Homo sapiens: one gene and its partners. The protein of the gene in region 2 interacts with the protein of the main gene of each other region in a biochemical or structural test. Each region holds a gene or a part of one and is shown on either strand. Other genes may lie near its edges.

What was found.
Region 1: the proteins of CYTH2 (region 2) and INAVA form a complex in vitro, tested with the Homo sapiens proteins (one study listed by BioGRID).
Region 3: the proteins of CYTH2 (region 2) and ARL4D form a complex in vitro, tested with the Homo sapiens proteins (one study listed by BioGRID).
Region 4: the proteins of CYTH2 (region 2) and GNAQ form a complex in vitro, tested with the Homo sapiens proteins (one study listed by BioGRID).

Annotation. Positions count from the first base shown.
Region 1 is NC_000001.11:200,889,841-200,897,954, reverse strand, and holds the start of INAVA (innate immunity activator protein), read right to left. Parts: upstream 3,056-8,114; 5' UTR 2,868-3,055; intron 1-2,867. UniProt on the Homo sapiens protein: Expressed in peripheral macrophages and intestinal myeloid-derived cells, is required for optimal PRR (pattern recognition receptor)-induced signaling, cytokine secretion, and bacterial clearance.
Region 2 is NC_000019.10:48,472,357-48,479,598, reverse strand, and holds part of CYTH2 (cytohesin-2), read right to left. Parts: coding exon 7,156-7,242; intron 6,302-7,155; coding exon 6,221-6,301; intron 5,695-6,220; coding exon 5,582-5,694; intron 5,418-5,581; coding exon 5,269-5,417; intron 4,762-5,268; coding exon 4,650-4,761; intron 1,883-4,649; coding exon of another isoform or gene 1,880-1,882; intron 1,531-1,879; coding exon 1,454-1,530; intron 1,325-1,453; coding exon 1,253-1,324; intron 1,162-1,252; coding exon 1,007-1,161; intron 477-1,006; coding exon 389-476; 3' UTR 1-388. UniProt on the Homo sapiens protein: Acts as a guanine-nucleotide exchange factor (GEF). Promotes guanine-nucleotide exchange on ARF1, ARF3 and ARF6. Activates ARF factors through replacement of GDP with GTP.
Region 3 is NC_000017.11:43,394,596-43,401,705, reverse strand, and holds ARL4D (ADP-ribosylation factor-like protein 4D), read right to left. Parts: upstream 2,714-7,110; 5' UTR 2,613-2,713; intron 2,611-2,612; exon of another isoform or gene 2,554-2,610; intron 2,046-2,553; 5' UTR 1,974-2,045; coding exon 1,368-1,973; 3' UTR 569-1,367; downstream 1-568. UniProt on the Homo sapiens protein: Small GTP-binding protein which cycles between an inactive GDP-bound and an active GTP-bound form, and the rate of cycling is regulated by guanine nucleotide exchange factors (GEF) and GTPase-activating proteins (GAP).
Region 4 is NC_000009.12:78,021,570-78,028,811, reverse strand, and holds part of GNAQ (guanine nucleotide-binding protein G(q) subunit alpha), read left to right. Parts: intron 1-7,242.

The DNA of each region.
Region 1 (8,114 bases), on a different chromosome or scaffold from region 2:
AATGGGATGGGATAACAAAGAAAGGAGGAAGGAAGCCCAGCATGGTGGCTCACGCCTGTAATCCCAGCATTTCTGGAGACCAAGGCAGAAGGATAGCTTGAGCCCAGGAGTTCAAGACCAGCCTGGACAACTTAGACCCCATCTCTCCAAAATGAAACTTAGCTGGGCATAGTGGTGTGCACCTGTAGTCCCAGCTACTCAGGAGGCTGAGGCAGGAGGATTGCCTGAGCCTGGAGAAGTCAAGGCTGCAGTGAGCCATGTTCACGCCATTGCACTCCAGCCTGGACAACAGAGAGACCCCGTCTCCAAAAAAAAAAGAAAGGAGGAAGGGGAAGACATCTTTATGGGACACAGCTATCCTCAACCCAAGAACCCAGGAGGTGTGAGGCATGTCCTACGCCCCAGTGGCTGAGGACACTTCAAGAAGTGGGCAGGCACATGGCCAAGGCCCTGGTCTGGGGCCTCCGAAGTCCAGGACGCCCACTCTCTGAATTGGCGCCCTGGACTCTGAACTTCACATCATCTGCAGATATGTGCAGCCACTGTATGCCAGAGAGCTGTCCCAAAGCCCTCAAACAACTTTCAAGCCATCAATTACTCCTGGGAGACCACTGAAGGGGAATCAGCCTAGATCCCCTACACCCCACAGCCAGGGGAGACCCAGGGCTGTGTCTATCAGGGTTGCCAAGAGTTGACAGGAGAGGGGCAAGCAGTGACTAGAGCAGAAGCTGTGCAAGGACAGAAAGGAGATCACCTGCTCCTCTGCCTGCTTCGGGGTGGAGAACACTTGGGTGGTACAGGTGCCATCCCATTGTGTCGGCTCAGCTAGGGACCAGTCACCCAGATAACACCTGTGCCCACCCCCTCTCCCTCCTCACCAACCCACACCCCTGGTTGGGGTCCCAGCTGGCCAGGGCCTGGCAGCTGCTGGCTGCAGCAGGGGTGGGAGGGGTGGGCGGAGCCCATGCAGGTGGTTGGGTCTGGAAAGAGAGCTCAGCCACCTCCTCACTGAGTCAGCCCATTGAGCAAGAGTCCAAAAGTCCTTCCGAGTTTCTGTCTGGAGCCTATCCTGCCTCCTCAGAGCGCGGGGCCGCAGGGTGGGGGAGGTGAGCTCCACCCCTCCTCAGGCAGCCAACACGACAGAAAAGTCGGCCTTGGGAAAGCTGGTAACAAAGCAAGGCCAACAGGGAGAGGGGACTGCTGTCAGCCAGGTCCCTGGTGATACCTCTCCACCCATCAAGATGATAAGAGCAGGACGATCAAGAACTTTTATAGACCTACATAAACAACACAGCAACCACAGGCAGCAACAATCAAACACAAAGCCCTGAAAGCAACATGTACCTTGCACTTTGGAATTTCAATTATTCAAGGAAGTCTAGAGAATGCATGGGAGAATTATTTTTTTTAACTTTATGGGAGGCCTTTGCAAACATGCCAAAGTTCTGAAAGATTGGCCATATATTCTGGAACCCCACCCCGCAGGATACTTAGGATGACTATTAGCTCTGCACTGTCCATCTGTCCCAAACTCTATCCCTCGTAGAGATAAGAACAGGACAGAGGAGCAGGCAGCTCACCCCCACCCCTTCCCACCCACCCTAGCCATCCTCCCACCCTCCCCAGAAGCCAAGAGCAGGGTGCAGCCAGAGGTAGGAAGCAAGGTGGTCTCAGCTAGCATGCTGAGTGTGTCTGCTTTGCACAGAGGAGGAAGTAATGTGGGAGGGGAAGCCATTAATTAGTCACGCTTGCTAATTAATTATTAACCACTAAGTAGTTGCCTTGGAAAGTTGGGCCAACTCAGCCCCTGCTTCTCAGGGGCTCTGAGACTGTTGCAGAGGAGTGGGGACTTACAGGGACAGAGGGGTACCTTAGCACGCCTCCCGTCTCCGCCAGCTTCCCCTTCTCCCAGCTCAGCCCAGTCTCTGACTGCCAGCATCAAAGGGGAGGCACTGATCTTCCCAGTGGTCCCAGCCTGATGCTGGGTCCTCTCTGGGATGACTTGCTGCCCCAAGTAGAGCAAAGAGAACAGCGTCAGATGCCCAGAGCCCCTGGCTGTGGGCTCAAGGCTTGGTTCTGCTGCGGTCTGTACTACCTTGGGGAAGTCACCAGGCCTCCCGGGGCTTCCTTTCCTCCTGTGCACAATAAAGACTGCACAGTGTCTAAAGCCTTTCCAGGTCCCCGGTCTGAATCTCGACCTCTTGGTCAATGTCAGGCCAAGAAGGAAACCCGTACAGCCACATAGCGGACCCTCACATCTGCCTCTGCCGAGGCCGCCCTCCACAGCTGTAGGGAACCTGCCCCAGAGTCAACAGGTGAGAGCGAGGGCACCACCCCCACCCAGGAGGCTATGAGTCTTAAGTGTCTAAGGCATTGCTTTTAGATAAAGGCAGTTCAGGTAACATCCCCACCCCCTCCCTAACACAGGGATCCCTCCTGGGCCTCTTCAAGCTCCAGTACTGGGCCCTAAAAAGCAGCCCACCCGGCTGAACAATGTCCCCAGAAAAAGGCAGAGGAGACCAGAAGGGGCACAGAGGGAGGGAGGGAAACTCCAGAGCACCTTCCCTCAGGCCGGGCCATGGGGGATCCTCCTCTATCCCAAGTGTGTCCCCCAAAGCCAGGTCTCAGGCCTGCCTGTCCCAGCTCATCTCTGCTTGCTCTCCCTCTGGTGGAAACTAAGGCCTAGGCAACCACAAGAACAGGCTCCCGTCCAAGCCCACCAGCACCCCTCTGTCATCCCTACACACCAGACATAGGCTGGCGGGGGTGGGGGTCGGAGGGGGGTGATGGCCACTGCTTGGGCTCCTCCACTCCCAGGCCAGCCTGCTCTCAGCCCCAAAGACCCATTCCACCTCCCCCGCCCTCACCTGCTTCTGGGCTTTAGTCCAGGAGTTGAAAAACAGCCCCTGCTTCCAGTCAGGGGGCTCAGGGCCCTCACATGTCGCCTCAGGGTCTCCCAAGCCACAGGCCTGTGCTCTCTCTCCAGCTGACGGAGCTGCTGGCCGTCCGTCCGTCTCGGCTCACCTGCCTACCTTGCCGTCCCTCCCAGGCTGCCGGGCCAGGGGAACCAGGTTACTTGTTATGACTTGAGTCAGAGGGGAGGAGCAGGTGAGCAAGTCCTTCCCTGAACTAATCCCGTGCAACTGGTGCCAGCAGGCAGCTCCTGGGCCTCTGCACTTCCGGGGGGCAGGAGGGTAGCAGGGAAAAAGGGGCTCCCATGGAGGAATCCCCAAAGAAGACAACAACAAGAGTCATGTCTTCATGGCCTCAAGAGACCCTAGTACAACATTCTGAGCTGTGAGGTACCTGCGTGCCCTCCTGTCCTGACCCTGGCTCTCCCTGCCTTCCTTTGACCTCAGTTTCTCTTTCCAGAAATTGAGGCCTGTTAAGCACCCCGGAAGCAAGGTGAAATGTCCACTGTCCATGGAAAAAACAAGCAGGACATTTACAAACTGACAGGGATGGGTCACTGCTCTTCCCCACATATGGAAATGAAGACCAAGGCCTGGGTTTTATCTCTCCCGAGTGAGGATTTTAAAACCTCAGGCAAGGCAGCTGGAATTCCAATATGCAGAAGTTCTAGAATCCTAGAGAGAGAGGATCAGGCTGTTCTTTTTATCCCAGACATTGTCCCCCAAGGGTATCGAGGCCATCACTTCTCTGTTGATTATTTACATCCATCCCCCAGCAACGCATGTTCATGGGGCACTGACAGGCACTGACCTGAGCCCAAGTCCTGTTTCCTACTCCACAGGAGGTCCACTGTGACCCCAGACCCTAAGTCCACTCCCCAAATGCAAGGAGCCAGAGACCAAAATGGAACTTATTTCCTATAAAAAATAAGCCTCAAGATCTCCCATCCCACCGACCCCCAAGCAAATGGGAAACTGGAATCTAGCCTATTTCAAGGCGGAAGCAGAGCTAACGCTGACTGTTGCCTGGCCTGTCCCCAGCAGGCTGCACCCCTCAAGTCTTCATCTTACCACCTCCCTTTCCCCCCACTCTCTGATCTTCCCACCATTCCCCCGACCCAGATTCCAGTGCCTCAATACATGTCTGGATTGCTTCCCCTCCCCCAGCCCCTAAAAAGTCCTGTCCCCACTCCCTACCCCCAAGTGCAGGGATGACAGAGGAAGTTTGCTTTCACCAGGCATCTCCTGTGGAGCGGAACTCATGGGGCTGGAGTCCCCCAGCATCCCCCACTGCTCCGGTACACACACCCAGCACACCTTCACATTCCTGTACACACCCTTTTTCCAAACAATGCTAGCCCCAGAGTGCTCCAGGCTGACCACCTCATTTTCTGCCCAGGCTGAGGCTGAGGGGCCCTAAGAGGGGACAGTTCTTCCTCCCCCCGCCCCATTGGGAGCTTGTTCTCTGGGTCTCCCAAAGAGCCTGCAGCCCTGCCCTTCCCCAGTCCTCCGTGACACACCGTCCCTCCCCATAGAGGCTTGGCACTTTCTTACAAAGTCAAACAGAGAGGGGTTGACTCTGGGCATAAGCGGCCCTTCCTCCACCTTGCCCATCTCCAGCTCCAGGTGGGGGTTGGTGGAAGTTTCTACCAGCTGTGAATTGGCTCACAGTTCACATTTCTTGAGCATAAAATAAAATTAAGAAGATCACTAAAAAAGTCAATTATATGAAATAAAGTTCTAAAAATATAAAAACATAGCAATATATATGCTTCTTTATTAACATTAAGCAGGGTCTAGCAGTGGGTAATTTCACACAAGGGCTGAGTGTAAACAACATTTCAAGACTGCTGTGACTGCAGTGTGATATGAAACTATGAATTCTATTAATGGCAAAGTCACAGGTACTGCCAATGCTACTGTGATTTGTTGTCTTCATAACTAAAGGTGATGTTAAAATCTGTTAAAGGTTGGTGAAAAACAATGATATCTTTTTTTGCCTCACCTAGTTTACACATCCTCTGAATTCCATCTACAGATGCCTAATGCCAATGAACCCAGTTAAGAATCCCTGCCCTCAGGTAATCCTCCATCTCTGACTTCAGGGGAGGTTAGTACAGATGCTCAATCTCACTGTTTGCATTGATCCTTTGGAATTCTCAAAAACACCTTGCTCCCCCAAATTCACGCTCAATATTTCCCAACCTTGCAGAATCTGAGGTTTGGAAGGGAGCTGGCTAACCAAACCTCCTGCCAAGAACCCCGGGGAGCCATCCTTGGAGCTCTCTGATGGCCATGTCATTCAATTCAAAATACCAATGGGGGAGGTGGGCACTCCAGAGGCCAGCTGGGAATCTGAAACAGCTCCCCACTCCAGTCAGGCCGGGGAGTCAGGGGACTGATGCCCCAGCCCCAAACCCCAGAGTGCCGTCCAGACCACCAGTTGGTGAGGAAGTGGTATTTCCTTGCAAAACATTATAGTACTTGGAATCTGATCTTTGCAGACAAGAGCCCTTCCCCAGGGAAGAGAAACTGGACCTCTTCAGTGTTTTCGTTTCCTGAGGAAAAGTCCCGAGTCAGAAAACTCTTCCCCAGCGCTGTAGCCATCCACTCTCCATTTTTTTTAAAAAAAAGTTCCTTCTTTTAGGGTCTTCTGATAACACCAGATTGGAAGTTCTTTAAAGCAAGGGCCTCGTCCTACCATCTTCACATCCCCAACAGCCCCCAGCAAAGTAGTCTCAGGCACTGCTAAAATCTTACTTCAAGAATTAAGGAATCAATGGCCAGCGCTAGAGACAACAGTGAAAAAAGGAAGAAGTGAAATAGCCCGGGACCCTCCAGGCAAGAGGGGTAGGAGATGGTTCCTTCACTGTTTTCTTACTCGCGTCTGCTCCCTGCTCACTAGGAAAGGTGTTCGCCTCCACTAAGCAAAGGTGAAGTGGGCTGGGACAGGGGAACTCCAAGCCAGCTTGGAATGCGCCCTGAAATGAGACCTCTAGGCTTTCTCTAAAAAGCCCCTTTGTCCTGTCCACCCTGCTCCCCTCCCCCACTGCGCCCTCCACATCCAGGCTGGCCCGAGACTTTGCTCCTTTTGTTTGGCTGCTTTCTGGCTTCCCGGAACCTGGCCAGGAAGATCCACAGGCACGAAGAAGGTCGAAGGAGAAAGGTTGAGGGACTGGAAATGTGCATTTTTGGTAGGAACTCAGAATTCCTGCCCCTTTGAAAAAATTACCCCATTCCCTGTAGGGCACCCTCCGCTAAGGCTGAAGACCGTGGGTTCAGGGGCCCGATCCCCCGCCCCAGTTCACCCGCACTGGGTGCCCCGAAGTTTTCCCGCTTACCTGTCCCATGGAGCTCTGGCGCCGCCCGCCTGCCCCTGCGCCCTCCACTCCAGCCTCGCAGCTTCAGGACCTGTTTGTCCAGGCCATCTTCCCTCCCCCCGAGCCTCCCTGCGGCCTGCCCTCCCCGGAGGTATTTCATTTAACTTCGGCATTTGCAGCATCCCAAATGTTAAAGATCCCAAGACATCTGTCCCCTGGGGCATACCAAGGCCCAGAGGAAAGAGGGGAAGACGCAAGAAGGGACTGAAGAGTCCGATCCAAGAGTCGGGACGGGGCCGCACGCGGGAGTGACGACGTACCCGCAGGGGTGAGCGAGCTGCGGGAGCAGCCGCTCGAGGGGCGAGGCTGTCCCCTTTGCCCCGCTTTCGGACGCCCGCGCGGTGGGACACCCCTGGCGCCGCCAGTTTCCGCAGCCCAGGCGGGACGAAGCTTCTCTCTTGGTCCCAGTGCCGCCTTTCATTCGCGCGCTCTGGCCTGGCTGGGGCCAGTTTTCATTCCTGGAGACCCCTAAGTGGAAGAATGAAAGGAGCCTGCGGAAGGGCGCTCCCCCGACCCTGTCCTCCCCGCAGGCGCCCTCCCCCTCGCTGTGCGGCGCTGCGGGTCGCGCGGGGATGGCCCCTCTCCCCGGCCCTGGCCCCGGCCCACTCCCACTCCTCCCGCCGGGCCCGCTGGCTGAACTCCGGCTGGCTGAAGGGAAGGAGCACCCTCCCGGCGAGCGCCTCCTGCTGCCCGCTGCGAGCTGCTGTGTCCCCGTTCATCCATTCATTCACTTCCCGGTTTTCAGTTGTTCAATAAACATTTATTGAGCACCTACTAGTGCCCAGCACGATGGATCAAAGCTCAAGCCCCATTCACTGGAGGATTCTCCAATCTAGACGAGTGATGAAGCAGCACAGTACCTGAAGTAAGGGCTAGGACCCCGGGCAAGAAGAGGGAAGGCTGACCCAGGCTGAGCCTCGGCAAAACTTGGCCAGAGGAAGCAATACCAGAAAATAAGAGAGGGACTTGAAACAGCAGTGACAGGTGTACAAAAGCACAGCAGCAAGGGAGCACAGCAGGTTCCAGGAGCTGCAGGGAGGTTAGGGTTTGGGATGAGGAAGGAGTAAAGGGAAAGAACATGGAAGAGAGACGAGGCTAATTCGTCAGTCAGTGGCTCATCCAGAAGCAGGGCAGCCAGACGCAGAGGCTCACGCCTATAATCCCAGCACTTTGGGAGGCCCAGGCCAGAGGATCGACTGAGGTCAGGAGTTGGAGATCAGCCTGGGCAACATTGTGAAAACCTGTCTCTACCAAAAAATAAAGAAATTGGCCAGGAGTGGTGGCACGCACCTGTAGTCCCAGCTACTTGGGAGGCTGAGGTGGGAAGATCACTTGAGCAGGGAGGCGGAGGTTGCAGTGAGCCAATATCCCGAGACTACACTCCGGCCTGGGAGACAGGGCAAGACCTTGTCTCAAAACAACAACAACAACAAAAAACCCACAACGAACGGCCAGGCGCGGTGGCTCACGCTTGTAATCCCAGCACTTTCGGAGGCCAATACGGACGGATCGCCTGAGGTCGGGAGTTCAAGAATGGCCTGGGCAACATGGCAAAACCCCATCTCTACTTAAAATACAAAAAAAATTAGCGAGCATGGTGCTGGGAGCCTGTAGTCCCAGTTACTCAGGAGGCTGAGGCATGAGAATCACTTGAACCCATGCAGCAGAGGTTGCAGTGAGCCAAGATCACTCCATTGCACTCCAGCCTGGGTGACAGAGCGAGACTCTGTCTCAATTAAAAACACACACACACAACAAACAAACAAACAAAAGTAAGGCAACTCCATGTGGTTGTCCAGGTTGTGCACTATACTAAGAGGGA
Region 2 (7,242 bases):
CCGGCCAATTCCAACTCCAGACTCCCACCATATTAACCTTCTCCCTTTACTCCACTCCTGCTGGGCTCGGGGTGAAACCAGAACAGACCCACCGGGACAGCCCAGGCAGCACCCAGAGACAGGCGGGTCCAGGCCCCTGTCCAGGGAAACAGGCTGGCTCCACGGAGCACCTCGACTCTGTCAACCCCAAGAAATGAGGGGGTCAGCAGGCCAAGTGGTTAAATAATTAATAAGATTACCAACAGCGTGTTAATTACAAAGAACAGTGAGGAGCTAGAGGTGGTGAATTTTCCAAACAGGGAACCAGGATCCACAGCCCCAAGGCCCAGGGGTCCGGCCACCCAGGCGGGGCAGCTCCGTAATAAATAATGGAGTTGGGGGCAGGGGGTCAGGGCTGCTCCTGCTTCTTCTTGACTGAAATCCGCTTCTTTCTCGCTGCCAGCATCTCATAGAAGGGGTCCACACTCACAGCCGCCCTGCAGAAGGGGAGGGGTCCCAGGATGAGGGCCAAGGAGTCCAGGCCTCCAGCCCCTCCTCCCTCATACCCAGGAGGAGTCTCAGACCCCCGGCCCCTCCTCCCTCAGACCCAGGAGTCCAGGCCCCCGGCCCCTCCTCCCTCAGACCCAGCAGTCCAGGCCCCCGGCCCCTCCTCCCTCAGACCCAGGAGTCCAGGCCCCCGGCCCCTCCTCCCTCACACCCAGGAGTCCAGGCCCCCGGCCCCTCCTCCGTCAGACCCAGGAGTCCAGGCCCCCGGCCCCTCCTCCGTCAGACCCAGGGGTCCAGGCCCCCGGCCCCTCCTCCGTCAGACCCAGGTGTCCAGGCCCCTGCCCCTCCTCCGTCAGACCCAGGAGTCCAGGCCCCAGCCCCTCCTCCGTCAGACCCAGGCGTCCAGGCCCCAGCCCCTCCTCCATCAGACCCAGGCATCCAGGCCCCTGCCCCTCCTCCATCAGACCCAGGAGTCCAGGCCCCAGCCCCTCCTCCATCAGGCCCAGGAGTCCAGGCTCACTGGATGGACTTGATCCACTCGTCCTTCTCCTCCTGCGTGGGGGCCGAGATCCGGTACACCATGTGGTTTCCCTCCACCACTCGGCCGTCCGCCTCAGTTTTGCAGGCTTTGATGAGCTGCCCCTTGTTGTTGGGGATGTAAAGTTCAAAGCAGTTCTGGGGACGAGAGAGGAAGGGCGCAGGTAAGAACCAGCCCTGGGCAGAGGAGGCCCCGCCCTGGCAGGAAGGTGTACAGAGAGGGTCTTACCGGTTTCCGGGGGTCGTCCACCTCTCGGATGCTCAGATTCTCCAGGGGGATGATTCCTCGGGGCTCCTTGTCCTGAAGAAGCAAGGTGGACAGAACTCAGACTTCCAAGTCCTCACCCCACCCCACCTCCCTCAGCCCCAGGAGTCCAGGCTCCCAGCCACTCCGCCCAGGACCCCAGAGCCCGGGTCGGGTCACGCTCACCGTGGTGTACTCAAAGTAGTAGAGGCAGTTGTCTGTGAGGATAAACCAGCGCCGCTTCCACGTCTTCACCCGGCCCCCTGAAAGGGAAGGGGTGGGAGGGGGCCTGGGCTCAACAGGGGGACAGGGCCTCTGGGAGATGGGAGGGGCGTGAGAAGCAGAGCAAGAGCGGTAGAGGTGGGGCTCCTGGGGCCTAGACAAAGCCGCTGCGTTGGGGGAGACAGACAAGCAGGGCCAGGCATGTTGGGGCTCCAGGAATCGTCCACCCCCAGCTTGGGGCTCCACATTTTCTGAGTCTGTCAGTCCCAGCCCAGGAGCCTGAGCCCCCAGCCCCCTCCTCCTGTGGGCAGGAGGCCAGGGCGCCAGGGCGCCAGGGCAGCCCCCTCCCCTCGTCTAGTGATGGGAGACAAAGACAGGTCGTGTACCTACCTCCTGGGGCAGACAGCGAGAAAGCAGGCAGGACCAGGTGCAGGAGAAGGGAAGGCGGGAGAATGGAGCACCCCCAAGAGCCGCAGGCGACAGAAACAGGGTGGGCACAGGGAGGGGTGCGCAGGGGCAGGACAGAGAGGCAAACACAGGAGAGAGGGAAAGACGCAGAGAGGAGGGGAGGGAGAGAGAGGGAAGAAAACCAGTTACATCCACGAGGGTGGGGATGGCCGGGGCTCCTCCCTCCCAGAGAGGCCAAGGGCCATGAGCCCCGGGTGGCAGCCTTGAAAACCCCTTGCTTCGGTACAGGGCCCCAGCCTACCCCCTAGGGTCTGTCCTAGGCCAGGAGCATCCTCCCTTGACATGGTAAAAGTGCCTCTGCCCTGGAGGAGGCCCCCACAGGACAGAAGGCAAAACCCCCAGCCCTTGGTCTGAGGTGGGTGTGAGGGCCCATCTCAGCTCCTGCACAAACTGGCTGTGTGACCTCAGGGCACTCTCTTGGACTCTCTGGACTCCAGCCTGGAGACTCACTCGGGCCTACACCTTCCTGTGGCAAAATGACCTGCTGCTGGCTTCCTTGTGGGCCCAGGGTTAAACAATGACAGTAAGAATGGCTTTTATTAGGCATGGAGTAGCAACCACCATCACCAATCTCCACTCCTGTATTTCCATCTTTTAAGGAAGGGGTCCCTCTAACTGGCACAAAGGGAACAGAGGCCCTTTGGTCAGAGATGTCCCTGGGGCTGGGCAGCCTTAGGTGGGGCTCAGAACCAAACTGAGGCGTGAGCCTCTGGGAAATGGGAAAGTTACTGCTCACAGGAGCAGTTTTTGTTTTGTTTTGTTTTTTTGAGACTGTCTCGCTCTGTCGTCCAGGCTGGATTTGCAATGGTGTGATCTCGGCTCACTGCAAGCTCCACCTCCTGGGTTCAAGCAATTCTTGTGCCTCAGCCTCCCAAGTAGCTGGGATTACAGGTGCCTGCCACCACGCCCGGCTAATTTTTGTATTTTTAGTAGAGACGGGGTTTCACCATGTTGGCCAGGCTGGTCTCAAACTCCTGACCTCAAGTGATCTGCCTGCCTCAGCCTCCCAAAGTGCTGGGATTACAGGCCTGAGCCACCGTGCCTGGCCTGACAGCAGTTTTGAGGGAAGCAGTTCCTCGTGATGCTGGCGCCTTCCTGCTTCTCTTTCTGGCCCGCTCACTGCCAGGGGCACCTCGAGGACTCTCAATTTCCCCCAGCAGTCTGCCTCCCTTGGATCGAATGCAGGGATCTGGACTGGGGTGTTGGCTGGACAGTGATTTGCATGTTTTATTTTATAGAGACGGGGTCTCGCTCTGTTGCCCAGGCTGGACTGCAGTGGCGCAACCATGACTCACTGAAGCCTCGACCACTTGAGCTCAAACAATCCTCCCACATCACCATGCCTGGCTAATTTTTTTATTTTTTGTAGAGATGGGGGGTATCATTATATTGCCCAGGTTGGTCTCAAACTCCTGACCTCTAACAATCCTCCTGCCTTGTCCTCCCAAAGTGCTGAAATTACAGGGGTGGGCCCCTGTGCCCTGCCTGACTTGTGTATTTTACATTTACCAGGAAACCCTGGCATCTGTTGAGGTGGTGATGCCCTGGTTTAAGAGCACAGTTCCACATGGGGAGGCCCCCAAGACTCAGAGGCCAAAGCTGCCCTGTCCAACCTCCTTCCAAGAAGCCTGACCTTGACTCCCTTCACTGAGCTGAAAGCTTCCTGTGGGCTCTCCTGCTGCCGCGGGAAGCCTCCACTGCTGTGCTGGACTGTAACTGCCCAGATGTGTCTCTCTGGAGCAGCTGTGCACCGTGTCTCCATTATAAACCACATCTAACACGCAGGTGGCACCTACTGTTACCAGGCACGGCTCCAGGCCAGTAGCTCTCAACCTTGACTATGCATTGGGAGCACCCGAGGAGCTTAAACGATGACTGATGGCCCTTCTGCTCCTGAGAGCCTGACTTCAGGAGTCTATGGCCCAGCCACCGGAGTTTTCGAGTTGCCCAGGCAAATCTCATGTACAGCCAGGGCTGAGAACCACTCTAGTCCTTGTGCTAACCCCTCATCATGCTACGATCCTGTCTGATCCATGCTAACCGACCTTGAATGTGCCAGTGCCACGTGTTATGACGAAGACTCCCCCCTCCATCTCTGCTGGGTTTCCCGACTCATCTGCACCAGCCCTGGCTATTCCCTCCACAGCTGGAAGCCAGAATCTGGGACAGGTTTCCTGGCCTGTTTGGCTCTTTTCTGCCTGTGGGTGGTGTTTCGGGAAGGATGGCACCTGGATCAGCCAAGTGCTCTGGGCCTGATGCCTCGGAGTGCGGGGTCAGTCCTGCCTGGAACCCTGGGAGTTCTTGCCAAGGGGAATAGATTCCAGGGGTTTGGCTCCCTCGGGCTGGGTTAACGCAGTGGAAAGAAGCCTGAGTGAACTCTTCTCCCACGAAAGGACAATGTCAGCTGCCTCTCACTGCCTCCTCAGCCCAGCTCAGGGCCTGGCACAGAAGGGCTCCATCAACATTTGTGGGTCAAGAGAAGGGGTTGGGAAGTACTTACTACAGGCCAGGCCCAGCACACAGGCCTGATTTTATTTTCAGCCCCATTTTTTGGGTGTGGAAAACTGAGGTTCAGAGAGGTCGAATCATTTGCCTCAGTTCAGGCAGCAGGTGTGTGCGGAAGCTGAGTCCAGGGCCCAGGCCCACAAATGTCCTCCTGCGGAGGGACCAGCGGGGTCGGGAGGGCACGTACCCAGCTTCAGGAGCCAGCCCTCCCGGTCCGGGTTGAAGAAGGTGTGGGTCAGGTCATTCCCGTCATCCTCAGGAATCTTGAAGGGCTCATTTCGGATGCTGTCGTACAGGTTCTGAGGAGTAAAGGCTGCATTAGCCATTCGAGCCCCCTGGGGCCCCCCAGGGTTACTCAGGGTGGGGGGCAGCGAGACCAGGGATGGGATGACTCATAGTGGGGAAGAGAGAGGGGTAGTGGGGAGGAGAGGGAAGTGAAAGGCAGAGAAGTGGAGGGAGGCTGAGGTGGCGGAGGAAAGAAGAGATGCCCTGGTGATAGGTGGAGGAGCCGGCTACGTCCTCAGAGAAACAGACAGATGGGGAATGAGGCCAATCGAGGGCCGGAAAGCCCAACAGCCAGAGACAGAGAAGACAGACAGGCCAAAATTGTCAGGGCCAAAGCCTGAGAGAGACAGTCAAGAAGAGAAGCACCCAGAGAGAGAGAAAAAGATCACACACGAGTTGGCATGATCGCACCATCTTGGGGGTGAGGGCAGACAGCTTGGGCACTAGGAGACCACAGGTGGGGCGGGGGTGTCTGTGGCAGGAAGAGGGGCAGGGCTGAGGGGCAGGGAAGGGGGACTGACCCTGAGCAGCTCCTCAGGCAGGTCCCCGCCCTCGTTGATGCCCCGGTTCATGGCCACAAAGCGCTCCAGGCCCGGCTTGTCCCGGACATTGGGATTGTGGAGACTGGTGTTGAGCATGATGACGGCGAAGGACAGCACATAGCACGTGTCTGCACCGGACAGGGCAGGTGGTGACGACCCAGGCATGTCAGTCCCCAGTGCCCCCATTCCCCAGGACCCAGGATTCCCAGCTCCCAGCCCCCTCCCTCCCTCAGACCTAGGAGTCTGGGCCCCAGTCTCCTCTTTCCCAGGACCCAGGATTTGGGGCCCGCACCTGTGGACTGGAAAACCCCAGGGTTGCACAGGCAGTATCGCTGGGCGAAGGCCTCCATCATCCGGTCAATTTTCTGGGCCTCTCCGGGTAGGCGAAAGCTCCATAGAAACTGCCTGGGTTGGGGAGGGGCCAGGAATGGATGCCAGGGCTGGTGGGAGCCTGTCCCCACTCTCAGTCCCTGTGTTAGGAACTGGTCCACGAGGAATCCCGACCTTCCGGCCTCAGCAGTTGTTTCAGGTATGGTCACATGATCCAGTCTCACCAATGGGCATTGGCCACGGGAGTGTTGTGAATCCCTACAGAAATAGCCTCTTTCTGCTAAGTTCGCTAGACAGGTCTGGGGGTTGGTTGAGGCTTGTTATCAGGTAAGCGGGTCTGCAGAGAGCAATGCTGACACAGTGGCAAATACAAGAGGCAAAGAAAGTCGACTTTCTGACCACCATTTGAGCTCCTGGATATAGCCATACCTGAAGGAGGCCATAACCCTGAACTTTTATGGTGCAGGACACACTCAGTTCCCTAGTTTTTGTTTCTGTTTTGCTTGTTTCTGTTTTTTTCTTGAGTAAGGTTTGTCACTTGTAACTAGGAAGGCCCTGACAGGTACATTCCTGGCGTTCCAAACCCCTCCCCCTCACTCACCTGAGGGCCTGCACCAGATTGAGGTCGGTGAACTCATGCAGATCCACAAAAGCATGGAGCACTGCCAGGTTCAGTTCTTCCCTGGAAGGATGGGACAAAGACACATACAGTTTGGAAAGGATGGGGCAGGAATGGGCAAAGGGCAATGCCCTGGGGAAGTCGTGCCCCCTCTACTGCACCACAGCTGCCCACTGCCGAGGGTGAAGTTTCCTGCTGGACTCCCACACAGGCCTGCCCCCAGGGTGGGGGATGCTCAGAACACACTCTTGGGAGGAATATCTGGCTTGGGAACCCTGCTTAGGCCAGACCTTTGTACAGTTGGGAGAAATGCCGCAAACATGTATGCTACCTACTGTCACCTCTCTCAAATGATCCCCATGCTCCCCAGGTATCCAGACACAGCCCCCACATCCCCCAGACATCCAGAGATGCTTCCCAAGCACCCCAGATCTCTATAAATCCCTGATTCCCAGACGTCCACAGATGGCCTCCAATCATCTGATGTCCAGTCCTGTGCACCCTAGGCTTCCAAATGACCCCCACAACTCCTAAGCTCCCACAAGGGCCCAGCGGTCCCCACAGCTCCCAGATGGCCACCCAGTGCCTATGCACAGCCATGGTCTACCCACGGTTCTCAAGCTCCCATGATCCTTGAGAGATGTTCTCTACCCTTCTCAGACATAAATGGATGCTTCCCCACAACTGCCAGGTAATTCCAGAAGGCCCCACATCCCCAGATGCTCTCGGTTGGCCGCAGGCTCCCCTAGCCCATGTCAGTCCATTCTGTCACAGTCCAGTCAGAAGGCTGATCTGCCAGGGCCCCTCTGCGGGGAGGCTGCAGGGCTGTTCCACCTGTGAGCTGCCAGTGTGAGGGCAGGAGCTGGGTCTGGGGGGTGGGAGGGAGGGGCCCCACAGGAGCTGAGTGGTGACCGTACCTCTCCCCCAGGTAGTCCCCGATGGCTGTCTTGTTCAGCCCCTCGCCCTTGTACAGGAAGCGGGCGATCTCCTCGGGTGTGTTCTGC
Region 3 (7,110 bases), on a different chromosome or scaffold from region 2:
ACCACAAATACTGGGGGCTTATGTCTTCCCCCTTCTATCTTGGAGTCTGGAGGGTGTATGTCCAGCAGTCCTCTCTGCCACCAAGCACAAACAGCTACTACTTCTGCCCCTCTCGTGAGAAGAGCTACCATTCCCAGAGCTGGAAAACTCATGGCTTAGTCACCAGGGCCAGGCTGGCTCAATCCAGCCCAGGCCTCCCTAGCACCAGCCGCTGCCATCATGCCAGTGAGCCAGTCAGCAGGATTGAGTACACAGAGGTGACTTAAGGCCAGGGAGGAATTACTTTCCACTCTCACCACATCTTACAAGGAGGAAAAAAATCAAACCAACCTAAGACTGGGGAAGTGGGGAGGATGGGAACAGAATGGCTCTTTGAGGACTTACCTATATAGACTTAGGTGTCACCAAGGTCAAGAACCTAGGAGTAGCTCAGACTAGCAAAATTTGAAGTTAAATCTGCAAGGAGCAGTTGATATAAGGGACAAGTAAGACCCAGAGGATGAGGGGAGGGGTGTTAAATCAGAGAAAAAGGAAGTGACCCCACCCAAAAAACTACAGAGATCAGGCAATAGCTTGAGGGGTTTTCCACTCCCCCCTATAATTTTCACAAGCCATCCCGTAACACACAATCTAATTTTTATAAGTGCTTGCTTTGCAAATTCAGCTTCAAGATAAATCTCCCTCCCCCTGCGCCACAACCCCATATAGAAATCTTGAATTGTCTCTGGGGCAAGATAAGGAGAGGAAAATGCCCCAGACCAAGGTAAGAGCTACAGTTATCAGTCTTTAATAACTTACAGGCAAATGCTAAAAAATAGTTAATAACAATAATACAGAGGACACACACAGCTTATAAAAAGGGTCATGGATCTACAAATGTGGGGAGGGGTTCTTGGCACTTTCACAGACACAAAAATAAAAACTATGTGACTGGTATTCCTAGAAAAGCAGCCTGGGGAGACTCCCCAGTTGGGGGACAGAGGAAGGGGAGATAGTTATTTCATCCCAAACACATTCTCCAAGTCACTTCCATCCCCCCGCCCCCAAACACATCCAATTAAAAATTTTTAGCCAGAGAAGAAAAATAAGAAACAGGGTCGAGGTAGAGTCACAGTTTACATTTACGTCTCCACAGTCCTGCAGCGCCCACTTCTCCAGAGAGGATGAGAGAGATATGCAAAGACATCCCATCTCCCATCCCCACCCCAGTGTGGCACCAAAACGGGACACCCCATGCTCCTCTCTCCTTCATTGAGGTGGACAGGTCCTGCACCCCAGTCTGACTGAGAGGTCACAGGCTGGTCCCACCCTGCTGTCCAAGTGTGCAGACCCCTACTAGGTGGGAGGAAAGGGAGGGGGGGCTTGGGTCACCGTCTCTTCTTGCCACCCCGAGCTGCCTTCTTCCTCTTGAGGATCATCTCATAGAGGCGCTCAAGGCCCTGCTGCAGGCCCAGACCGTCCACAGCGCTGCAGCCTTGCACATGAGTGAGAGTGGCGGCTGCTAGCTCTCGGACTGCCAGCCTCTTCTCCACCTCAGCAGCGCTCAGTGCCCCGGGCTGGTCCTGCTTGTTGGCCAGCACCAGCACTGGCACGCCCTGGTTGTCCGAGGCCCGGCTGATTCGGTGCAACTCCACCTTGGCTTCCTCCAGCCGCTCAGCCTCCGCAGCGTCCACCACAAACACTAGACCGTCTGTCCGGCGGGTATAAGAGCGCCACAGTGGTCGCAGCTTCTCCTGCCCCCCGACGTCCCACACTTGGAAGGTGATGCCACGCGATCCCCCGAGGGGCACCCGGATCTTCTCGGTGTTGAAGCCTTTGGTGGGGACACTCTGGACAAACTCCTTGAACTTGAGGCGGTAAAGGAGGGAGGTCTTTCCAGCAGAGTCCAGCCCAATGACCACGACATGCAGGGCTTGGAAGTGGGGCAAGAAGGAGGAGGCAGTGGGCGCCATCTCAGTCAAGTGGTTCCCCATAGTGAGCTAAGGCGCCTAGTAGAGGCAGGGAGGCCTTGAAATTGAAGGTTCCAGGGAGCACAGCTGGGTTATCTGAACCAAGAAAAGGTCATGGGAGAAAAAGGAGACGTTTAATAATACACACAAGATTTGCAACTTCTTGATCCCTTCCTAAATCACCCTCCCATCCTTCATTTTTAAAATTCCTTTCCTTTTTTTTTTTTTTTTTAAGGCATAACAGAGGTGTTCCCCCACTCCCTGGGGGGGTCGTGAGGGGGGCGATGGGACCTAGAGAGACTCCCAGGTCCTGGGCCACTCAAGTGGGGGGTGAGGGCTCGATCCATGGACAGTGGGCTTCTAGAGCCTCTTCTCAGAGCTTATGGCGCCATCCCCCAGGCAAGATCCCCGAGGGACGGGGGAAGTCGACAGTGCCCCCAAACTAAGAGCTAGGGTGCAGACGCTGAGACCGGAGATTGAGTCCGGCTCCCACCCGCCCTCCGCAGCCCCAAGCCGTTGACACGGTGCCCTTCCTTACTCCGCGACCCTCGCCCCACCGCCCCGCGACACTCTCCTGCCCGCCCGCCCTCCTCCGATGGCCGACCCCAGCTCCAGCGGCCCGGCACCGGGACCGCCTCAGCACGGTCTGCAGGGTCCGTTTACCTCTCGTGAGCCGCGCTCTCCTCGAGCCTTTCCCGGTGAAACACCGCAGCCGCCCCGCGAGACCCCCGCAGACACCCACCGCGCCTCCAACCGCTGCCTCTGCAGAGCCTGCCTAGGGTTCGGCCTTAAAAACCCGCGTGTGACGTCACAAGGCGCGGGACAATCAGCGGCGGCGGGGCGGAGCGTGGAGCTACGGGCGCTGCAGCCCCCACCATACGCGGAGGGGCGTTTGCTTAATCCGTGGCTGCTCTATTTGACCTTTTCTACCACACTCTAATATTTGGAATTAAACTTGGAATTAATGCAGAATGGAGGGTGGGAGGGGCGAAAGGAACGTGCCTGGCAACGTTTGACTCGGGAGGAAAGATATGAATACCCTAATATTCTCACTACCATCGCATCCCCCTCCACCAGGCCGAGATACCACCCCACATGGACACTCCTTCGGCCAAAGGATCTACTCGGAGAGGCTGACAAGTCTTTCTCCTTTATCTTTCATAATTCAATTGTCAAACCTAAGGTGAACCTGGAGCCCCATAAAACAGCTGCTTCATAGTGCTAAGCCCATTATCTGCAATAGCCTGTTAGGGACTGTTGTCTGCCTTTTACAGATACACAAAGCCCTGAAGGGTTAAATGACCTATTTGAGGTTACACTCAACAGTATGTTTAGGCGCAGTGGATCATACCTGTAAACTCAGCACTTTGGGAGGCTGAGGCAGGCACATCACTTAAGCTCAGGAGTTCCACCAGCCTGGACAACAGGGTGAAACCCCATCAGTAATAAAAAGACAAAAATTAGCCGGGCGTGGTGGCGGGTGCCTGTAATCCCAGCTACTCGGGAGGCTGAGGCAGGAGAATCGCTTGAACCCGGGAGGCGGAGGTTGCAGTAAGCTGAGATAGCGCCACTGCATTCCAGCCTGGGCGACAGAGCAAGACTCTGTCTCAAAACAAAGCAAACAAAAAAAAAAAACCAGTGTGTTTATTGGGCTGGGCACGGTAGCTCACGCCTGTAATACCAGCATTTTGGGAGGCCGATGTGGGCGAAGCACCTGAGGTCAGGAGTTCGAGACCAGCCTGGCCAACATGGTGAAACCCCGTCTCTACTAAAAATACAAAAATTAGCTGGGTGTGGTGGCGGGCGCCTGTAATTGCAACTATTCGGGAGGCTGAGGCAGGAGAATCACTTGAACCCGGGAGGCGGAGGTTGCAGTGAGCTGAGATCACACCATTGCACTCCAGCCTGGGCAACAGAGCAAGACTCTGTCTCAAAAAAAACAAAAACAAAACAAAACAAAACAAAAAACACTGTGTTTATTGACCTCATTCATACTGTGTGCTCTGAATGAGACAGAGAGATGGTGGAGAAATAGAGGATGTCTCGGCTGTAGAATCAGGCCTCAAAGGGCTTAAGACTTAAGACTGGCAATGACAGAATGAGACAGCACATGTATTGGGTCTTTGTAAATCATGAGATAGCACTTGTAGGATTTCAGAGAAGAGAGAGAATGTGTCAACTGGAAGCTTCTGAAAAGGTTTATAGACGTTCTTTAGCCCTATCTAGGACTGGTTAGGAGGGGCACAGGAATGAGTAGGGTCTCCCCAGCCACTGCAGCCTGCTACAGTCTGGGCAGCCCTGAAAGGAAGGAGATGTCACAAAGGGCAGTGTGACCAAAAGGACAACAGCAATTAGGTGGGGGAGAGAAGAGGGCCAATCAAAGAAGAATGAAATTGTAAATTGTAACTTTATCTATTTATTTATTTATTTATTTATTTATTTATTTTTGAGACAGAGTTTTGCTCTTGTTACCCAGGCTGGTGTCCAATGGTGCGATCTCGGCTCACTGCAACCTCCACCTCCCAGGTTCAAGCAATTCTCCTGCCTCAGCCTCCCGAGTAGCTGGGATTATAGGCATGTGCCACCACGCCCGGCTAATTTTGTACTTTTAGTACAGACAGGATTTCTCCATGTTGGTCAGGCTGGTCTCGAACTCCCGATCTCAGGTGATCCGCCCGCCTCGACCTCCCAAAGTGTTGGGATTTACAGGCGTGGATTATTTTATTTATTGTGTAATTCAGTATTAATCTTTTTAAGGGCTATGTGTGAGAGGGATTGGAAAAAGGAGAAGGGAAGTCATTGCCAGACAGCACGGCCCAGCCTTTTCCTGCCCACCCTCCTCAATCAAGTGCTGATAAATAAGCTTCCCATCTGTTTGTCACCAGTGTGCTTTGCCACCTCCTTTTTCTCCCCTCCACTACAAAACCAGCCACCTGGTTTCCCCAGCAATGCAGGGAGCCTCCCCAAATCCCTAAAGACCTTAGGAAATTAGTCTAAGATTAAGACCTTAGGAAATTAGTTTGTTACACCCCAAGTTGGAGGGTGACAGGTTGCAGCAGCAGCTAACGTACAGGAGACAGACCTGAGCATGGTGAAGTTAGGAGAGGGGAAGACGGAGCAGGCCCAGCGGTTGAGAACCACTGCACTGTTGAGTGGCCACTGCATGCCAGGCTCTGGTCTAGGAACTTTGCTTACTTTTCCTTTTTTAATACACAAGTCAAGCCCATGAAGTAAGTATGGTTAGTCTAAAAAGAAGAAACTGAAGCACAGAAAGGTTAGGTAATTTGTTGAAGGTCATCCAGCTAGAAACTGGCCAAACCTGGCTTTGAACAAATGTTACAATGGCTATGAGACTGAAAACACACAAAAACTGAAAATACACAAGTTGTCTTGTTTCTTCCACAATCTTTGAAGCTTCTTTAACATGGCTCCTATAATCTGTCTTGGGACTCACATCCAAGACAGAAATTGTCACTTATCTGATAAAGGAAATGAAACTGACAATCCTACCCCACCCTTCCGTCTTTCATGTTTGCCAGAGAAGGTGTTAATGAACAAATGGGAAGGAGAAGGTGGGGCTGGGGAGGGGTAAAAAAAGGGGCCCAGCTCGTCCAGGTAGCACTAAGCTATGGGCTTACACTAATCCCTGCAGAGAACATCTGAACATTTGTACATTAAGCAATCATTTTTTTTTGAACGATACAGAAATTAGCATGGCCCCGTGCAAGGATGACTTGCAAATTCATGAAGCATTCCCTATTTTTTCAAAATTAAAATAAAAATAATTTTTTTTTTTTTTGAGACGGAGTCTCGCTGTTTTGCCCAGGGCGGACTGCAGTGGCGCTATCTCGGCTCACTGCAAGCTCCACTTCCCGGGTTCATGCCATTCTCCTGCCTCAGCCTCCCGAGTAGCTGGAACTACAGGTGCCCGCCACCGCGCCCAGCTAATTTTTAGTATTTTTAGTAGAGACGGAGTTTCACCGTGTTAGCCAAGATGGTCTCAATCTCCTGACCTCGTGATCCGCCCGCCTCGGCCTCCCAAAGTGCCGGGATTACAGGCATGAGCCACCGCGCCCGGCCTTTTTTTTTTTTTTTTAAAGACAAGGTCTCACTCTGTCACCCAGGCTGGAGTGCAGTGGCGAGACCATAGCTTACTGCAGCCTTGAACTCTTCGGTTCAAGAGATCCTCCGCCTCAGACTCCTGAGTAGCTGGGATTACAGGTGCGTGCCACCACATGTGGCTGGAGAACTACTTTAGATTGGTGGAAGAGTGTGCAGGAGAAAGTTTCAAAGCGGCGACGCTGAGCCAAGGTTTAAGTGACACTGAGTCAGATAAGCATCATTCTTCCTCAGAGCTGTCTCCTCCACCAGACTACGTGATCAAGGGCAGCAGCTGGTTCTTATCTGTAGCTCTACCATGCCCAGCACCATGCCTGGCACACATAGGCAGTCAGAAAATCTTGTGTGAATTAATGAATGCATGATGGAATAAATGTACTCAGAGGGCTCCCTGAGTAGGAGAACCAAACCTCCACCCTTAGCGTGGGAGTTTCCCAGCCTGGGGTCCTTGGGCCCTTGGGCCCTTGGGGGTTCTGTTGATACTGGGTTGGCCAGGAATTCCTACAAACCCTGCATTTCTAGGCAGTGTCTGAGTAGTATAGAACTCTCAGGCCTTTATTGGAGAGGAGGAACTTAAAGGAGAAAAACAAGGACCAAAAATGGGGATGACACTGGAGAGACAGGTTGCCCTTAGGACATGCTGGAACACCAGACTGAGATTCAGTGCGTGAGTCCCATCCTTCCATTCCTCACTAGTAGAGTGACTTGAAAAAGTAAAAAGCCACTTCCGGCCGGGCCCAGTGGCTCGCGCCTATAATGCCAACACTTTGGGTGGCTGAGGCGGATGGATCACCTGAAGTTAGGAGTTCAAGACCAGCCTGGCCAACATGTTGAAACCTCGTCTCTACTAAAAATACAAAAAAATTAGCAGGGCGTGGTGGCGCACGCCTGTAGTCCCAGCTACTCCGGAGGCTGAAGCAGGAGAATAGCTGGAACCGGGAAGGCGGAGGTTGCAGTGAGCCGAATTGCGCCACTGCACTCCAGCCTGGGCGACAGAGCGAGACTCCGTCTCAAAAAAAAGTAACTTCCCCACCTGGGAGCC
Region 4 (7,242 bases), on a different chromosome or scaffold from region 2:
GAATCCAGGACGGTTGATTTCAACAAGGAAGATATTAGGGAGGGATTTCATTTGAGGAATTCCTGATTCGCTGCTTTGATGAGTACACTGAATGTTCTGGTTCCTTCTATCATTTAAACAAACCTATCTAGAGGAGATTATAAGATGTATCCATTCACAGTTTAAAGATCTACTAATATTTTTAACTAGTTTATGGAGGAATAAGTATTTTGAAATGAAAATCAATGTAAAATTGTTTTCAAAGTAAATTTTAGTTCAAGGCTTGATACCATTTTAATGGAAGAGGATTTGTTTGACAGGGATAAAAGTGGGTACCCTTGCATTTGCTCATGTAATTATTTACTTTTGTGTATTAATAATATGGAGACATTTAAAAAGACAATTAGTGGGTACCTGACTAGATGAAAGTATGGCAGTAAAATTTGGGCTATGTTGATTTATATTCGGCAACTATGCCAGTCTTCCAAATTTATTCCGTATGCTTATATATTATATATTTTTATTTTAACTTTAGAAACGTGAACCCTGAAATCTACCACTATAAGAATATTACATTAAATTTTGAATTATTTTCTTGTTGTCTTTTAACTTATTCATTCTTTGAATTCATTTATGTTAGTGTTTGACACTCAAAACTTACTCTTTGTATTCTATGTAGATATACAAGAGCATACTTCATTTTAACTTGGTTAATGTTTTTATATATTTTGTAGGTATAAAGCACATATTTTCTTTAATTGATTAATTTTCATGAATATTCACTAAATATTTCTGTTGGTGGTACATAGATAACCTCATTTAATATAATTTGTAAGTCTGTGTAATACAAGTGGCCTTGAGTGCCTGCTTCATGTTACATATAGTTATCCTGAAATTTTTTTCAGTTCCTAGAAGAAACATTTTTTTCCTGTTAACCTGTTCTTATTTTACACGTTTTTGAAGTCTTTTACTCTTTAGATCTTAATTATCAAATAGGAAGACTTAGTAAACCCCTTTAATTGATTGAATTATCGCTATTGAAACAGGCAAAGTTTAGGCCAGTCTTTTTTTTTTTTTTTTTGAGATGGAGTTTTGCTCTTGTTGCCCAAGCTGGAGTGCAATGGCGCGACCTCACTTCACTGCAACCTCCGCCTCCCAGGTACAAGCGATTCTCCTGTCTCAGCCTCCCAGGTAGCTTGGATTACAGGCATGCACCACCACGCCCGGCTATTTTTTTTGCATTTAGTAGAGCTGGGGTTTCAACATGTTAGTCAGGCTGGTCGCGACAGGCCAGTCTTAAATGGAAGACCTTAAATGGTCTTGGTCTTCTGAAATGAATTTTATATATGAGCACAGATTTTCTTCCTGTTGTACACTGCAAACATATGAGAGTAGAGGTTGTGTCTGTTTTGCTCACTATTAAATCCCAGCTTCAAGCACAGTATCTAACTCGTAGAATGCTCTCAATAAATATTGGCTGAGTAAATGAATTTATTTATTACCCTCCTGCTGGAAATTAGACCAGACAATAATGAATAAATGTATAGAAACATAGGAATATATAATGTTTTTATCTGTGGCAGATAAAATCAGGATCTTAAAAAAATTGTGTGTAACTCTTTGAGCCAACTGATTATAAATGCATTCCAGGATAGGAAGTGTTAATGTAAGATGTTGCATCACACATTGAACCAGTGTATTACAGTTCTGTACTGGATGTATTTGAGAATGGTAACAGTCATGCTTAAAGTATGAAAGTTTAAAGAAAAGAAAAACCATTCTATATTTTTATTACTTTTTATTGTGTAGAGGCTAGTTTAACCCTCTCATCTTTTTACCATACATTTTTCTCCATGGTACAGGGCTCAGTGAATTTTTAATACTCTGTAGAGCACAGGTGATGACTAAATGGGTGTTTGTGATTGACTTATACAATAACGTGAGGAAAACCACCATAATTAAATACAGAATTTCAGGAATTGCAGTTAGAACATTTTTAATATGAAGGATATGCATTTGTACTGAAAGCTATACAGTTTTAGACCAAGAAGGGGCTTGGAAGGCTGGAAGTGCTGTAGCCAATTTAAGCTGTATGGGAAGTTAATTTCTACACATCTGGAAAAGAGCACGCTTCCCACTGCTCCTCAGTAGGGTTCACTGGAGTGGGTATGTTGATTGCCTGAATTAACCTAGAGGTCAGTGCCATCTAGGATGGTGACTCAGAACCATTGAGTGAAAGCCTTGGTCTAAGTAACCTCAATAACAGCAGCTCCCTAAAAATAGCAAAATATGGTGTTTATGAGACTGCTTTAAGGACCAACAGGTTTTATTTTTTGCTACTCTTTTAGCTTCCAAGTGTTGAATATGTTTCTGAATGTCAGGATTTATTTGGATACAGTTCCCTTTTTTGTTGTTGTTGAAACAAAGTACTTATAGTTTATATCAGAAGAACAAAGTGGGAACATCCCTCATAAAAATCAAAACTGTGGCTCTGACTGTATAACAAAGCCTTCGGAATAAGTTTTTTGCATTGAACTACGTAGATTCATCGTCTGGATCTCCATATAATGTCCCATCCTTACCCCTATATGCTATTTCTTCATATGGCAAATCTGACACAAATTAAAACCCTGCTGAACAGTGAAAATATTGCAGGTTTATCTATTCACATATTCTAAAGTAAGTTTAGAAAGGAGAACCAGAAGACTAATTTAGTAGCCATTTTAATATAAATAAATTTGATAGAATCTTTTTCATTAAAAAAGAAAACCATCTCAGCTCTACTTTAGGAGAAATGGCTTATGTTCAGTTTTCAGAAGTGCCTATTAAAAACAGTTACGATTTTTATTACCCATGAATTTTTTAGGACCTGAAACAGCCTTTGCAGTTGTGAGGCTGCGTGCTATGCTAAACTTAGCAGAAAAAAGGAACAGATTTTTCTTTATGATCCAGGCACACTTACACTTGAAAAGAAATTAACAAGATTCTCTAAGGAAGGTTTTGATTCCAGCATTCATATTAATTTTTCTTTAAGGGGAGTTATTCTACTAATATTCTGTTAATATTAGTAGAAATGTTGATTGGATGTTGTAGAGGGAAAATAGGGAGCTCAAAGGGTACATCTTGGAAGAGACAGAAGCCATTTTATAAGGAGGTTAGGATTGCTTTCTCCCTCAGAAGGTGGAGGGAATCTGTTTCCTCTGTATTGGGTTGAGGAAAATACAAGTTTGTGAAGCAACAAATTTTAAAGTCAAATTTCCTGGTTGGAACGGGAGGCAGTCACATTTTTCAAAGGAAAACTTTTGTAATGCCTTTTAAGTTATGTTAAGATCTCTGCAGACTTAATCCTAGTGAAGTGTGAAATAGCAATAGAAGGTAAAATGTGCGATTGTTGGTAATTAAATCTGTGGCAATAACTGACTACAGTAAACCGTGAACGTTTACTCTTGTTCTGCCGAATGGAGTAACATTAAAGAAAGAGCTGCTCTCAGACCCAAACACTATTTTGTGTGAATAGCTGTTACTGATAAAATTATAGGAAGTTGTTCAACAATCACCTTTGATTTGTTACATTACCGATATGTAAAAAATAAAATTATAGGAAGTTGTTCAACAATCACCTTTGATTTGTTACATTACCGATATGTAAAAATCTGTCTGATTTCTCATCTAACATGTAGTAAAAGGACCTAGGCATACTGATGAAATGAGTTAACACATCCTAGGTGGTCATGAATTTGGGCTTTAAAAACAAAAATAAATGTCCATGTTGCAGTGCCGAGAATCCCAAATTGGATTAACTATACAGCTCTGTTGTTAACCTTTATACATAGCCATAATCAGTGCAGAATATTTTGTTAAAAGCCTTTATGGTTAATTTTAAAGAACAAAATTAGTATTACTTAAAAATCAAATTATGAAGATATCTCAAATCCATTTTTTCAACATATACTTGTCAGTTATTAAAAAATATTTCCTCTAATTTTTTTTTTTAACCAGGCATAACTTAAGAAGGAACAGTTTCATGCAGAATGCTAGTCAAATGAACAAATATGAGCACCTACTATGTGCCAAATAATGTGCTGTGTGAGATGCTCCTTATGTCTTATTTGCCGACAGGAAAGACTAAGCACTTTGCATAGTTCTTGTATTGTAGCTGATGTCCTCGTACTGACATGCCCTTCTGACTTTATCCTTCCTGGCTTTGGCTTTTCTATTGGGTTTTCATACACAGAAAGAGACAAAATAATCTGAAGGCCATTGTAGGAGCTTCCTGGGGATCACAGGACTGGGGAATGCGGATGATTTTACCTTGTGTTTCTAAGTGGATTGGAAGCTCCGTGAAGGCAAAGATCCTTGCTCTTGTATCTTTATCGCAATTCCTGATGATTCTATTATCAGTAACTAGGGATGTGTGTGGAAAGCTGGATTCCAAAAAGAATGGAGGGTAATCGGAAGAAGTGAATTTAAATTCCCTGCTTTCTTCTAATAGGCATCATCCATATGTCCTCCATTTTCCACTCCTCTTTGCTGTTTTGTGGGCCACCGGGCGCACAGTGAAAGGAATTCCGTTTTAAAGATGGAACAGTTTTTGCCTTCTTGCCTTCCTCTCATTTGTTCTCTTGGGACAATGTTTCGGTTGAACATTCTCATATTGTTTCCAGTTAAAAGCCAATAGCAATTGATCCAGCTGTTCCAATGGAAAGCTGTTACACACACAAGTTCTTTGAAATCTGACAATCTGTGCACCTTTATTACAGGATTAATCATGGATTGTGAACAATATGTCTGCTTTAGAAATAAAATAGTTGTTTTCAAGTAATGGATTGTGGTGCAGTTGGGAACGAAAATGTTACTAATGCCATTATAGTGTGTGTGTGTGTATATACACACATATACAATATGTGTGTGTTTATACACACATAATTGACCCACAAATTAAAGAAAAAGAGATCTAGCCAGACTTTTTGGCTCTGTTACCGGAAGCGAACAGTGATGTTTAGACACATAGTTACATATATTTCTAGGAGATAGCCTCATTTTTTTTCCCTTTGGAAAACTAAAATCATGAATTAATTGTGCTTTCCAAGAATTTTTTTTTTAATCAGCATCACTTGCTAAAAAATAGAAATAGAATTTTTTTGTTTCTTTTTTATGTTGAAAAATTTTTTTCATTTTTATTGTTTCTTTCCTACATTTTCTTTTACTGTAGGGGCAACAGGGTGATTGGTGAGATCTTCTACCACCATGTATTTACTGGTAACTGCAGGCATCTAGTTGCTTCTAAAGAGGAATGCTTCTGTGATTTACCCAGTCCCTTTTCAGTCTACCAGTGATTTCTGTAGCCCCCCTACCCATCCCTTTCATGTGAATACCACCCACCCATTTAATTCCTCATCACATCTTTCTTAAACAGATGCTAAAGAGGTTCCTCAGATTCTCTGACTTGCACATTTGCATACGATTTAGAGAACTTCCAAGTTGGTGCTTCTGTGAGACATCATGTGGCTGTGAGCTGGTGAGAGGGGAAGTTGGGTGCTTTAATACATTCAAAGGAAGGAATTTGTGAGTGTGTGTTTAGGCAATGATTAACTTTCTTTTGCAATACTTACTCTGGTCCGTAAAGCAAAAATAAATTGTTACTGAACACAATGTAAAATCCTCCTTCCTTTTCCAGAGGGCAGGGACTTGAGATTGGTTCATGATTACCAGCAGAGAGTTAGTGAGCCAGTGCTGGATAATCTATCACGGACCAGTGGGTTTCAGAATCGGATGCAGTGCGTATGCTGGAAGGGGAGAAGGTGCTGTAGGCATGTGTAGGCATCTTCCTCACTTAATGATTTGAAAACCCTCTTCTCAGTGACTTGCAAGCCTTAACATCTTTTTCTGATTGTATTTCCATACAGATAGTTAAGGGTGATGGCAATAGCAGTGGCCTTTACTTTTGTTATACCCAATCAGCCTGAGTACATTTTTGTGGTGGGTTTGTTTTGGTATTTTCTTGCCATGTGAATTGATATTTAGGACCTGCGCTTTGCAGAGCTCCTTCATTATAGTATGCGTTCTTTCTGCAGATGGCAAATGCAATTTTCCTCTTGTCCTAGAGAGATGACCCATTTCCTGTGACTTGTTCTAATAATACAAGATGACTTTAATTTTTGTTCAGTTTGCCTTTAAAAGATTGCCAGGTTTAACTCTCTTGTCTCTGTAACTCTTGTGATATATTTTTGAGCATTGGTAAGACATGTAATAATTTAAAAACAATGGCAGACTAATTTTGTGAAAGTTTTTTATTTTTTATTTTTGGCTAAATAAGCACCTTTTATGGCTGTGCATTTTGGATTCGTTACATATATCTTTTCTAAAATCTGTGACTGAAAGTGGGGTGAAGTATTCCTGCCCTGCTTACTGAATCTTTTTTTCCCACATAACTAACCTCAGGGTATTTTGATCATTTGCTTTTTCTATAAAAACCTGTAGAATGAGGAGATTGCAGCAGATGATCTCTAAGGACCATTTGAACTTTGAATTTTTTTCTCCTTCCCCTTTGCAGCTTTGGCGTCTCGGCCACTTTCTGCCCAAACTCACCCCTGGATGAAGGGTCTAAGCTTGCTGCTGTCTCCAGCAGTGATGGGCTCTACTAGGAGGCATTGCCAGGTCTGGTGGGCTCCTTCGGGTTGGCCTGGCTCTTCTCTTTGACCTCTGTAATAACTCTGAGTGCCCTGCAGTGGGGAGCACTTTGAGGGGGGCCTGTGAATGAAGCCTTAGCAAGTCTGTCCAGAGCTCCCCTGGTGCCGCCTGGCATGCTGCTGATAGTTTGCAATGTCTTCACAAGAAATGGTATCAGAAACCTCCTGTCATATCAGCATGGGTCTCTTGCTTCCTGCAGGAAGGGCGATATCCTGGGAGGCACAGAGGTGGAGCCCGAGAGACGCAGTGTTCCAGCGCTGCTCGGCTCAGGACTGGGTCTTTTCTTCCGTATCCTCAAGCAGCTTCCTTTGACTTACTACTTCTTTTTGTTTGTTTTTTCTTCATTGGGCTTTAAGCGTTGCTTCTCTTTAGTGTATGTGTGACTGAAGCCAAACACAACATTGCTTTCCCTTTGCCTGCAAATAATCTTGTTGCCCAAGCCCATCTCTGCCATTTTCAGTGACAGCTGGCTGGCCAATGAGCCTGAGCACTGGGAATGCCCAGCAGGGCACATCTAGGGGGCTGCTTTATATTTGGAGCTAGCAGGTCTCTTTTCTAGGGCTTTCCAGGAAA